4 linked regions of the Homo sapiens genome follow. The protein of the gene in region 2 interacts with the protein of the main gene of each other region in a biochemical or structural test. Each region holds a gene or a part of one and is shown on either strand. Other genes may lie near its edges.

What was found. The genes of interacting proteins can lie anywhere in the genome.
Region 1: the proteins of SENP2 (region 2) and NUP153 form a complex in vitro, tested with the Homo sapiens proteins (2 studies listed by BioGRID).
Region 3: of the proteins of SENP2 (region 2) and TRIM63, one has a biochemical effect on the other in vitro, tested with the Homo sapiens proteins (one large-scale study listed by BioGRID).
Region 4: the proteins of SENP2 (region 2) and KPNB1 form a complex in vitro, tested with the Homo sapiens proteins (one study listed by BioGRID).

The regions. Positions count from the first base shown.
Region 1 is NC_000006.12:17,617,232-17,619,925, reverse strand, and holds part of NUP153 (nuclear pore complex protein Nup153), read left to right. Parts: intron 1-2,694. UniProt on the Homo sapiens protein: Component of the nuclear pore complex (NPC), a complex required for the trafficking across the nuclear envelope. Functions as a scaffolding element in the nuclear phase of the NPC essential for normal nucleocytoplasmic transport of proteins and mRNAs.
Region 2 is NC_000003.12:185,589,295-185,592,794, reverse strand, and holds part of SENP2 (sentrin-specific protease 2), read right to left. Parts: intron 2,682-3,500; coding exon 2,626-2,681; intron 1-2,625. UniProt on the Homo sapiens protein: Protease that catalyzes two essential functions in the SUMO pathway.
Region 3 is NC_000001.11:26,057,631-26,061,130, reverse strand, and holds part of TRIM63 (E3 ubiquitin-protein ligase TRIM63), read left to right. Parts: intron 1-769; coding exon 770-865; intron 866-2,507; coding exon 2,508-2,741; intron 2,742-3,480; coding exon 3,481-3,500. UniProt on the Homo sapiens protein: E3 ubiquitin ligase. Mediates the ubiquitination and subsequent proteasomal degradation of CKM, GMEB1 and HIBADH.
Region 4 is NC_000017.11:47,677,419-47,680,918, reverse strand, and holds part of KPNB1 (importin subunit beta-1), read right to left. Parts: intron 2,874-3,500; coding exon 2,730-2,873; intron 2,612-2,729; coding exon 2,506-2,611; intron 900-2,505; coding exon 785-899; intron 412-784; coding exon 250-411; intron 1-249.

The sequences.
Region 1 (2,694 bases), on a different chromosome or scaffold from region 2:
GGGTTTTGCCATGTTGGCCACGCTGGTCTCGAACTCCTGACCTCAGGTGATCTGCCCGCCTCGGCCTCCCAAACTGCTAGGATTATAGGTGTGAGCCACAGCGCCTGGCCGGATATGTTTCTATTTCTATGGAGAATGTCATTGGTATTTTTGGTAGGGATTGCATTGAATCCATAGATTGCTTTGAGTAGTATGGCCATTTTAACAATAATAGTTCTTCTGATCCATGAATATAGGATGTCTTTACATTTGTTTGTGTTCTCTTTAATTTCTTTCATCAGTTTTTAGTTTAAAAATATAGAACACTTCACAAATTTGGGTGTCATCCTTGTGCAGGGGGCCATGCTAATCTTCTTTGTTCAAGTTTTGGGTATGTGCTGCTGAAGTAAGCACTGAAAGAACTTTTCTCACAGGGTCTTTTAACCTGTTCCTCCTACCAGGCTTTCTTGGCTTGCTGTTTAACTGTGCTCTTGGGAAACCTCTTTTTACCATTCTTTTGGAGATTCCTTTTAGCTTCGTAGAGGAACCCGTTTCCTGGGTGTCATGTCTTTCCTGTTACTCCCCTATTTTCTGATACAGCACATCTTCCAGTGATTCTTGAGGGTTCAGGGATGGAAAACATTGAGGCCATACATCTCTGCAGGGATCTTTATTCTCTCCCCATGTTTGGTAAGATTTTGATTGAATATAGATGTAGATTGGAAATCATTTTTATAATTTTGAAAGCATTTCTCCATTGTAGACTTTTCTGGCTTCCAGAGTTGCCTGAAGTCTTGATCTTTGCTCTTTGGCCTGTTTCTTCTTTCTGGAATTGTTAGACTCTCCTCTTTTGCCTCCATTGTTCTGATACATCAGGATGTGTCTTGATGTGGGTTTGTTTTTATCGTTTGTGTAGGGAGTGCAGCATGCTCTTTTGTGAACTTCCATTTTGGGGAATTTTCCTGAATTATTTATTTGAAGATTTTGTCCCCTAATCCTTCCTTTCCTTCTTACCTTTTGTCTTTGTGTCATACTTTCTCAGATTTATCTTTCATTACCATTCTGTTGAGATTTTAACTTCTGCTGGGCGCAGTGGCTCACGCCTGTAATCCCAGCACTTTGGGAGGCCAAGGCGGGCAGATCACGAGGTCAGGATATCGAGACCATCCTGGCTAACACGGTGAAACCCCATCTCTACTAAGAAATACAAAAAATTAGCCAGGCGTGGTGGCGGGCGCCTGTAGTCCCAGCTACTCAGGAGACTGAGGCAGGAGAATGGCGTGAACTCGGGAGGTGGAGCTTGCAGTGAGCTGAGACCGTGCCACTGCACTCCAGCCTGGGCAACAGAGCCAGACTCCATCTTTAAAAAAAAAAAAAAAAAAAAGAGAGATTTTAACTTCCACTATTTCTTTAATTTCTAAGTATTCTTTTTTATTTTCTGGATGTTTCCTTTTTATGCCCCTCTGGGTTCCCCCCCACCCAACTCTCCAGTGGATGAAGTATTCATTAAAGATATGGAGTTCAGATTTTTCTCCTTAAAATTTTGTTTCTTTGCTGAGTCAGTTTTCCCAAAATTGCTTTTATTATTTTTGTCTCAGTGTTTCTTATTAAATACTGTCCTCAAATGCCTGGTACTCCTTGGCTACCTGTAGTTGTTATGAGTGTAGGACACGTAAATACCACTTAAATCCTTTCTACATTGATAGGGCTTACAGATCTTGAATTTCATTGTAGATTTATCTGGTTTATCTAGCATTATTTTACTTGGGAAAGTTTGGATGTTAGTATCCTTCATTCTTTTCACTTAGTCTGTCAGATACCCCAAAGAAGATGCATCCAGTCTCCTGCATGGAGGGTATCAGAGAACTTCATTTGCCAGTGTTCTGGGAGCTAAGATTGGGAAGATGGCTGGAGCGCTCGGTATTTTGTGAATATCGAGCTACACTTAATTCCTGTTTTCAAAATGATATTCTTGCCCTTAACTGTATGTGGTGTCTCCCAGTCCAGACACTTCTACAAAGACTAAAACACTAAACTTCTGTTCTGGTGCGGTGGAAGAGGAGAATTACCATCTTTTTTTTCTTTTTTTTTCTTTTCCTTCTGAGATAGGGTCTCACTCTGTTTCCCAGGCTGGAAGGCAGTGGCAGAGTCAGGGCACACTGCGTCCTCGACCTCCTAGGCTCAGAAGATCTTCCCACCTCAGCCTCCTGAGTAGCTGGGATTACAGGTGCACGCCACTACGCCTGGCTAATTTTGAAAAATTTTTTATAGAGATAGGATCTCGCCATGTTGCCTAGGTTGTTCTCAAACTCCTGGGCTCAAGCAGTCCACCTGCCTTGGCCTCCCAAAGTGCTAGGATTATACGCATGAGTCACTGCACCCACTGATAATTACCATCTTTGTGTTGGTGTTGGGAGGGATTGATTCTGGGTATCTGCTTCTAAACATACTCTGCCATCCTTTTTTTTTTTTTTTTTTTTTAATTCCCACTACATCCTCACTTCCATAGGTATCTGGAACCTAAACATTTTGGGTATGTTTGGTGTAAATGCAATTGCTTCTGTTCTTTCCCTACTGCTCGTTTAGTATCAACTCTAGTCAGCCTTCCAGCTTCTAAACCTATATCTTTGTAAAAATCCCTTGTTGTTTTAATGCACTTTTCAAAGAAGATAGAGCTAAGTGTATTTGTTGATTTCACTGTCTTTAACCATAAGT
Region 2 (3,500 bases):
AAATACAAAAATTAGCCGGGTGTGGTGGTGGGCACCTGTAGTCCCAGCTACTTGGGAAGCTGAGGCAGGGGAATCACTTGAACCTGGGAGGCGGAGGTTGCAGTGGGCCGAGAATGTGCCATTGCACTCCAGCCTGAGCAACAGAGCAAGACTCCATCTCAAAAAAAAAAAAAAAGGAGACCCTGTCTTACTAATTTTTGTATTTTCTGTAAAACCTAACACATTGGTTAGCACTGAGACATGCTCAATAAGTACTCACTGAATTTAAACGAAATATTAACACAAATATGTCCACACTCAATTACCACATCTGGAGGTAGACCCAAATTTATAATCATTTTTGAGAAAGAGGAATATATTATTATAGCATTTTACTATGCCTTTTTCCTTTAATCTACTTTTATTTTCTTTATCCATTCAGATATACTGAAGTAAAAGACTTGGCTGGGCACAGTGGCTCATATCCATAATCCCGGCACTTTGGAAGGGCAGGAGTTCCAAGATCAGCCTGGGCAACATATGGAGACTCAGTATCCACATACAAAATAATTTGCCAGGTGTGGTGGTATGGGCCTATAGTCCCAGCTACTCAGGAGACTGAGGCAGGAGGATTGTGTGAGCCCAGGAGTTTGAGACTGCAGTGAGCTACGATCGTGCCACTGCACTGAAGCCTGGGCAACACAGTGATACCCTTGCCTCTTACAAAATTAAAAAAAAAAATTGTTGATGACAAGATCAAGACAGAGCAAGATCCTGTCTCAAAAAAAAAAAAAAAAAAAAAAAGAAATATTACCGGTTCTTAAAGACAGGAGTATTCTTTCAAAATGCCACTGCTGCCTATTTTCAGCCTGGACAATGTGGCAAGACCCTGTTTCTACAAAAAAAATACAAAAATCAGCTAGGTGTGATAACGTGCCTGTAGGCCCAACCAACTACTTGGGAGGCTGAGATGGAAGGATCACCTGGGCCCAGGGAGGTGGAGGCTGCAGTGAGCCATGATTATGCCACTGCATCCCAGCCTGGGTGACAGAATGAGACCCTGTCTCGAAAAAAAAAAATAGAAAAGATGGGTTCCCTCAGCCATCTGAACTAGAGTCACCTCAGTTTGAAACATTTACAACATTTCCTCCTTAAAAATAAGTAGGGCCAGGCGCGGGGGCTCACGCCTGTAATCCCAGCACTTTGGGAGGCTGAGGCAGGTGGATCACGAAGTCAGGAGACTGAGACTATCCTGGCTAACATGGTGAAACCCCGTCTCTACTAAAAATACAAAAAATTAGCCGGGCATGATGGCGGGCGCCTGTAGTCCCAGCTACTCAGGAGGCTGAGGCAGGAGAATGGTGTGAACCCGGGAGGTGGAGGTTGCAGTGAGTCGAGATTGCACCACTACACTCCAGCCTGGGTGACAGAGCGAGACTCCATCTCAAAAAATAAATAAATAAGAAGTATCTTTTCTTTGTAGAATGATTTAGAATTTTAAAATGCACAGTCTACACCTAGGCTTATTTACCTGCAAGGATTAGACAAGTCCCTGGTAACAGTAGTTACCTCTAGAAAAGATAAGAAAGGGATAGGAAAGAGACTTTCTTGGGTTGGGTGCGGTGGCTCACGCCTGTAACCCCAGCACTTTGGGAGGCCGAGGCGGGCAGATCACGAGGTCAGGAGATGGAGACCATCCTGGCTAACACGGTGAAACCCCATCTCTACTAAAAATACAAAAAAACTAGCCAGGTGTGGTGGTGGGTGCCTGTAATCCCAGCTACTCGGGAGGCTGAGGCAGGAGAATGGCGTGAACCTGGGAGGCAGAGCTTGCAGTGAGCCGAGATTGCGCCACTGCACTCCAGCCTGCGACAGAGCAAGACTCTGTCTCAAAAAAAAAAAAAAAAAAAAAAAGGAGACTTTCTTTTTTTTTTTTTTTTTTTTTTTTGAGATGGAGTGTCGCTCTGTCGCCCAGGCTGGAGTGCAGAGTGCAGTAGCAGATTCTTGGCTCACTGCAACCTCCGCCTCCCAGGTTCACGCGATTCTCGTGCCTCAGCCTCCCGAGTAGCTGTGACTATAGGCGTGCACCACTTGGCTAATTTTTTAATGTTTAGTAGAGATGGGGTTTCACCATGTTGGCCAGGCTGGTCTCAAACTCCTGACCTCAAGTGATCCTCCCACCTCAGCCTCTGAAGTGCTGGAATTAAAGGTTTGAGCCACCACGTCGGGCCAGGAAAGAGACTTAAGTTTTTTTGTTTTTTTTTTTCCTGACACAGTCCTGCTCTGTCGCCCCAGGCTGAAGTGCAATGGCACCATCTTGGCTCACAGCAACCTCCACCTCCCAGGTTCAAGCGATTCTCCTGCCTCAGCCTCCCGAGTAGCTGGGATTACAAGCTCCTGCCACCACAGCAAGCTAATTTTTGTATTTTTAGTAGAGACAGGGTTTTGCCATGTTGGCCAGGCTGGTCTCAAACTCCTGACCTCAGGTGATCCGCCTGCCTTGGCCTCCCAAAGTGCTAGGATTACAGCCACTGCGCCCGGCCAAGACTTACTTTTTACCAGATACTTTTTACCTTTTGAATTTTGTTCCATGCATATATTTTTCCTATTTAAAAACTAAAAATTTTTAAAATTTATATTCAGTACCTAATCTTGGTCTTTTGGCTGGTATTTCATCAGTGTCCACTGTAGAAAACAGAGTGCTGAAAAAGAGAAAGAAAAAAATATATATATATAGATTTACACACACATTCATTTCTGTAAGTAAACTTACTATTCATATAACACATCCCCCTTCTATCACTTTGTCATAAAATGAGATCCAACTGATGTTTTAAAAGAGAATGCTGGTGGGACACAGTGGCTCGTGCCTGTAATCCCAGCACTTTGGGAGGCCAAGGGGGAGGATCGCTTGAGCCTTGGAGTTTGACATCAGCCTGGGCAACAAAGTAAGACCTCATCTCTACGATAAAAAAATAAATAAAAAATTAGCCAGCCTTGGTGGTAAGTGAGTGTGGTCCCAGCTACACTAAGGCAGGAGGATCACTTGAGCCCAGGAAGTAAGGCTGCAGTGAGCCCAGGTCATGCCACTGCACTCCAGCCTAATCAAAAGAGTGAGACCTTGTTTTAAAAAGAAATAAAACTAAAAATAAAAGCAAAACAAAAGAGAGAATGCTATTCTATAGTAGGCTTTTCACATGCGAAGACTTACTGCTACAGTTTCAACTATTTGAGAGAGAAACAAACTTCTTACCAAATAATAATTTGCCATCTGGTTAAAGTACAAACTTAAAACTGGCCAAAGTCACTTAGCTAGTAAATGAACCCAGGTAAGAGTTTAGGACAGTATTTTCTCTTTCGCTCCAGAAATGATTTAAAAACAACAAACAAGCAATTTCCTTTTGAAAATGATCCCCAAAGAAAGCCATCTTTTACTTTAGGTGACAGTATTAATATGAACAGCCTTAAAAGACAATTCTTTTTTACTGTTTTTTCTTTTGTGTGTGTGTAAGGGAGTTAAA
Region 3 (3,500 bases), on a different chromosome or scaffold from region 2:
CCTGCTGGGCACGGCCTGATGATTCAGGAGGCAGATTTGATCCCTGTAGATCTGCTGATCTGGCCTTTCAGGAATAGTCTCTCTGGAGGGACTTCCCAGGCCACAGGGACAGCAGCCCTGGCCTTCCTAGGGGAGGCAGCTGAGCTCATGGTTATACTTAGAGCCACTCGAGAGCACCTGGGTGTGGCCACAGGGGAGCGGTCAGACGCCCCAGCCAGGCCACTGGGGTCCTCTCAGGCCACGGCTTCTCCATCCCCCAGACACCTCTTCCTGTGCCTCTCACCTCTTCTCCAAGACTTCACATTCCCCCACAGCAGGAGGCAGCTTAGAGCCTTCTCCCTGGGTCCCTGGGCCTGTGAGGGCCCACCACCCTGTCCGTGCAGTAAGCCGTAGCCACCCCCTTTCCATACTCTCTCTTCCCTACTCCCCACTCTTCTCTAGGTCTCTCTCTTCTAGACGTCTCCAACTCTATTTCTTTTTTTGTCCCTTCTTTCTTAGAAACAAGCCCCTCCTCTGTCAGTTCCTTGCTGTGTGTTTTGGGCAGCTCACTTGCCTGCTGTTGGCCTCACCTGTAAAATAAGGGATGCAGTATCTTTCTAATATCCTCTACTCTGGAGCTGAGCTATACCCGAAAGAGGGGCCAGATCCCTACTGGAGGCTCTTTCTAGCAGAGAGGGGAGGGAGGAAGCCATGTTGCTGCCATGCCCCAGTGGGTAGGCCCTGAGGCTATTTGTGTCTCTCCTCTCCTGACCCCCACACCCCCATCTAGACTGAACTGAATAACTGTATCTCCATGCTGGTGGCGGGGAATGACCGTGTGCAGACCATCATCACTCAGCTGGAGGATTCCCGTCGAGTGACCAAGGTGAGCGGACAGAATAGTCCTGCCTGGGGATTTGGAGCTTTCCAGGGCAGCCTGGTCTCTGGGGAAGGCTCACCCATAGGTTGTGGCTAAAGGTTGGGGCCCGGAGCCTGGGGCGGTCAAGCAGGGATGGCAGGGGAGGGACTAATCCATTCATCCAGTCTCTCAACAAATGCTTCTTAAGCACAGCTGTGTGTCCGGCCCCACCCAAGATGTGGGGGATGGAGGAGTGAACCAGACAGACGTGGTCCCTGAGCTCAGGGAGTGTCCCATCAATAATTCTCAGTATTTATTCAGCACAAATTGTTTTCAGAGCACAGTTCTTCAGTGTGCTGTAGACCAACACTTCCCAAACTTTGAAGTGCGTGAAAATTACGCTGGGATCATGTTGAAATTCAGGTTTTGATTCAGTTGGTTTGGAATGAGGCATAAGAGCTGCATTTCTAGCCAGTTCCCAGGATTTGCCCAAGCTGCTGGGTCCACAGACCACATGTTGAGTAGTGAGACTGTTGAGGGCAGAAGGGAACTTTTCTATCCCTGAAAAAAGCTTCCACGATTTTCCATGTTCACTTGGGGTAGGGATCTGGAGATGAGATGAGGGGAAGGGGTCATCATAATTGCTAGTGGATGAAGAGTTGGGCGAAGGGTAGGAAGGAGGGGAACATTGTGATCACCCACGAGAGGCTCCCGGTCTGATGAGATGCTATTGTCACACCCATTTTATAGAAAAGAACATAGAGAGAAGGGAGCTTCGGTTGAGGAGGGTGCTAGGAAAGGAGCTGTTTTTCCACCTCTCCTAGGACCAAATGATGCAGAGCTTCCCGAATCCAGTCTTGGTCCTGAAAGGGAGGGAAGAGTGTGAACTGGGACATATGGGAGGCCCAGGAAACGTTAATTTGTTGAAGGTCACACAGCTAAAAGGGAAACACAGCTAAAAGGCAACAGAGAGCTGGGCACAGTGGCTCATGCCTATAATCCCAGCACTTTGGGAGGTCAAGCTGGGTGGATCATGAGGTCAGGAGATCGAGACCATCCTGGCCAACATGGTGAAACCCCATCTCTACTAAAAATACAAAAAAATAGCCAGGCGTGGTAGCGTATCTATAATCCCAGCTACTCGGGAGGCTGAGGCAGGAGAATCGCTTGAACCTGGGAGGTGGAGGTTGCAGTGAGCCAAGATCGCACCACTGCACTCCAGCGGGGGCAACAGAGCGAGACTCCATCTCAAAAAAAAAAAAAAAAAAAGGGCAACAGAGAAAGACAGGGCAGATCCCACATTGGGTGACTGTTGCATTGGTCTAAGAGGTGATGCTCCAATGACCAGCTGAGGTTGGGGGACAGGGGGAGGGTGCAGGAACAAGGAAGAACATGTTGTGTCATGTGACCCTAGAGCCTCTATTTTGGAAGAAGGGGCTAGCTGTTTTTCAAGGCATCATCCTCCAAATATCACTGGCGTACTAAATAGCTGTGAGGCCAGATGAGTGTTTTCTTCTTGTTAAGTCTTTGTTTCTTCTTCTGTAGTGTGGGGATGTATGTAGTGAGATCTCTTCTAGCTTTAGATTCCTTGCTACTGTCCTAGGAAGGCAGTGTAGTGGGCAGGGAATAAAGACCCTACAGAACGTGACCACAAGACTTCCGTCCTCAGGAGAACAGTCACCAGGTAAAGGAAGAGCTGAGCCAGAAGTTTGACACGTTGTATGCCATCCTGGATGAGAAGAAAAGTGAGTTGCTGCAGCGGATCACGCAGGAGCAGGAGAAAAAGCTTAGCTTCATCGAGGCCCTCATCCAGCAGTACCAGGAGCAGCTGGACAAGTCCACAAAGCTGGTGGAAACTGCCATCCAGTCCCTGGACGAGCCTGGGGGAGCCACCTTCCTCTTGGTGAGCAGGACTAGAAGGGTCTGGGTGGGGTCAGTTCAACTCTACAGCTCTAAGGTTCAAGTTATGCTTCCCCACTGACCACCCATGGGCCCTTGGAAAAGCCATTTAAACCTCTGTGAGCCTCAGTTTCCTCATCTGTCAAATGGGCATGTAACACCCCCCACCTTCCTCTTACTGATTTTATGATGATAAGATAAGAGGATGTTTATGAAATGACTTTGTAAGCTGCAAAATACAGTGTCCCATCTACAGACTATTAATTGAGCCCCTACTGTAGGCCAGGCACTGAGGTGGAAGACAAGGAGATAAACCAGACACAGCCCTGCCCTCAAAGAGCTTGTTGGGGAGGACAGAAAAGGCTCAGTTATAAGACTTCATAGTTCAGTTCAATAAAAATGTTCTAGGCTTCTACTGTGGGCCAGGCTTTTTGCTAGACATTAGGTATGAAAAGGTGGTTAGGATTGGGGAGTTCAGGGTTTAGGAGTTTTGGGATTGATACCCCTAGAATCCAAGCTTCCTGTCAAGACAGTGGGTCCTAGGGTGATGACCAAGACCTGTACAGACCACAGACAGAGGGAAAAGTTCCAGATTCTGCTCAGTTTGGGGTGGGGAGCAGGTCACAACTGGGCTAGGGAATGGCACCAAATATCTACCTACAACACCTAGTTCACTAGTTTTGCTGATTTCCTGCGGTTACCTCTTCTGCGGTCCTAATCCTTTGTTCTCTCTCCCCCTGCAGACTGCCAAGCAACTCATCAA
Region 4 (3,500 bases), on a different chromosome or scaffold from region 2:
ATTAGGACCCAAAATACTCAGGGAATTTCAGTGAATTCCAGTTTTAAAAGTTCTGCTCTCCATCACTATGAGGAGTCAAACATTTGGCTCAAGGAAAAACTGAGGCTGCCTGACTCAGAAGCACCTACATGGGAAAAAGTACAAACAAAAAAAATGCCAGAAGGCAGTGCTTGCCAGAATGGCCTAAAGAAAACATACCCCCCTCCTCCAGGAAGTAGAAGAAAGAGGACAGTGGAGGCAAGATCTTACCAAGCTTGGTTCTTCAGTTTCCTCAGTTCTTTTGTTGCCCATGTAGCAAGGGTTTTTGCTTTGTTAGTCTTCGATCTCCGCCCTTCAGTTAACAATTCATGGATCATTGGCCTAGCTTCTACTAATTTCAGTACATCCTTCCCAAATGCTGTACATAAGTCCCTGTGCAAAACAAACACAGCTGAGAATGAGCTCCTAGCCCCATACCAGTATAATGTTTTGAGCCTTCCAAACCAGTGCTATGGGTTTCTTAGCAAATTTCAAAGATAAATAAAACCCTCAGTAGAGGTCACTAGACAGAGGCAATTGTTGACCAACATCAGAGTTTAATGGGGTGTAATACAGACACCTTGAGGGTCTGGAATAAACTATCATGTGAACACTCAAAACAGGACATGAAGCGTTCTGCAAAGAAATCTCTGTGCCAAAAAAGTGAACTGTTGCCATCCGCGATACTCTCAAAACTCCTTACTCCATGTTTTCTCATTTTCTGTGAGAAGTTCTATTCAGCTCTTAGAAGCAGGGTATAACTTACCCTATTAGTCCAGCAGCACAAGCTACTACTCCATCTGTGTGATCCTCATCTCCAGCAATGTGGTCAATGAAAGACAGAATAAATTCTACTCTGGGTTGTACCAGCATCACATCCGCTATAAAAGAGAGAGAAGGTATTGGTCGGGTGCGGTGGCTCATGCCTGTAAACCCAGCACTTTAGGAGGCCCAGGCGGGTGGATCACAAGGTCAGAAGATCGAGACCATCCTGGCTAACTCGGTGAAACCCCGTCTCTACTAAAAATACAAAAAAATTAGCCGGGCGTGGTGGCGGGCGCCTGTAGTCCCAGCTACTCAGGAGGCTGAGGTAGGAAAATGGCGTGAACCCAGGAGGCGGAGCTTGCAGTGAGCCGAGATTGCGCCACTGCGCTCCAGCCTAGGCGACAGAGCAAGATTCCATCTCAAAAAAAAAAGAAAAAAAAAAGAGAGAGAAGGTCTGATGCAGCTGTCCCTCATATGGCAGGACTACATCCTTTTTCAAAATTTCCAACTATTATACCCCTATCATACAAGGTCCAAGCTGGATAACTAGATGCATATAGTTATATCAAATTATTCTTCCTTTGATTAATGTGTCGTTCCTCAAGTCGACAGAAGAGACAAATATTCCTCTTCCTATAGGCAAATATAGAAGAAACAAATTTAACTTTTTCCTGAGCTAATGATACCAAGGGGGGTGAAGTAAAAAATTTCCCCAATCAGCAACAAGAACACGTAACGGGAATTATGACTCCCCAGTCCTCCAATTTAGCTTGTGGGGATGGGAAAGGGGTAGGGGACCTGCCACTCATGGTTGATACAGGAAGCATTTATGTTGGGTTTCTTCCCCCCAACATTTTTGCTGAATCCCATCCCTTGTAATACTCAAGAAATATGAGAAAAAGAAGCAGAGGGCTGGGTGCAGTGGCTCACGCCTGAAATCCCATCACTTTGGGAGCCCAAGGTGGGAGATTGCCTGAGCTCAGGAGTTCGAGAGCAGCCTGCAAAACATGGTGAAATCCCATCTCTACTAAAATACAAAAAAAAAAAAAATAGCTGGGCATGGTGGTGTGTGCCTGTAGTCCCAGCTACTCAGGAAGCTGAGGCATAAGAATCACTTGAACCCAGGAAGTGAAGACTGCAGTGAGCTGTGATCGCTCCACTGCACTCCAGCTTGGGTGAGAGTGAGACTGTCTCCAAAAAATAAAAATAAAATAAAATAAATTTAAAAGGCTGGGCACAGTGGCTCAAGCCTGTAATCCCAGCACTTTGGGAGACCAAGGCGGGTGGATCAATTGAGATCAGGAGTTCAAGACCAGCCTGACCAACAAGGTGAAAGCTTGCCTCTACTAAAAATATAAAAATTAGCCAGGCATAGTGGCAGATGTGTATAGTTCCAGCTACTCAGGAGGCTGAGGCAGGAGAACTGCTTGAACCTGGGAGGTGGAGGTTGCAGTGAGCCGAGATTGCACGACTGCACTCCAGCCTGGGCAACAGAGTGAGACTCCGTCTCAAAACAAAAAAAAGAAAGAAGAAGCAGAGCAAAAACAGTAGTCTACAGTTTTCCCCAAGCCACTCTCTTCATTAGGGCACTGCTCCCCCTTCTCCCAGCCTTTTAAGCAACAGGCACTAGGTTCACAAGCGAGCTACAGAATGACAGACATAGCCCACTTGGCTAAGTGCACATTGGCGAGCGGACGAAGGGAACTGGGTTGTATACTCAACGGTGTACGTTCTCCTGATCCCCCTTTAATCCCTGGACGATTCCAGTATAGGCTTCCAAGCAGCTTTCCCTTAGCTCATTCAGATAATCCACCATGTCATAGTCTGACTGTAAGACACAAAGAACAGAACCTACATCACACTGATCACTTTTAGCTGCATGTTTGTCAATAGTCCCTCCAATTAGAGCTAGACTTAAAGAACAGCCAAGATAGCTTTAAGCTTACCTTGTCCACCTGGGCTTGGGAGGCCTGCTGAAGAGTATTCAATACAACCTCTAAGTATTTTTTAAACTCTCCTCCAATAGCAAGGGCAATATCACCAAACACTGACAGAATCTGCGGCTTCACAGACCTGTGGACGTTCTCATTCTGACAAGGAACAAAAGGAAAAGTGAATTAAGTCAAAACTTGTTTGGTCCAAAGATTCATGAAAATTTCATTTCTAACAAGCAACTATTGATTTTAAATATTTGGATGGTCCTTTATAGCTTACAAAACCTTTCCCATTTGCACCTCACACCAACTCTAAGAAGCTAGCCCAGGTATTGGTATTCCCACTTTACACATGAGGAGACTGACTTAAGAATCAAGTGACTTGTCTGAGAACACACATGTACAATAATTAATGATGGCTATCTCTGGAGAGAGGTATAATATACAAATGGTCCCCTGCTCATGATGGTTTGATGATTTCTCCACTTTACAATGTGTTTATTGGGACCTAACTCCATCATAAGTCAAGGAACAACTGTATTTACTTTTCCTTTGCATTTTACTGTTTTGTTTTAAAAATCTCTAATAGAGCACACATTCCTTTAACTTTACAATCTTTCTTCAGAGTCATCTGTGAAATGAACAACTCCCCTCTTTATAAGCCCAAAGCCAATGTTCTAGAAACTTACAGCTCCCTGTCACTGATTTTTTTTTTTTTTTTTTTTTTTTGAGACGGAGTTTGGCTCTTCTTGCCCAGGCTGGAGTGCAATGGCGTGATCTTGG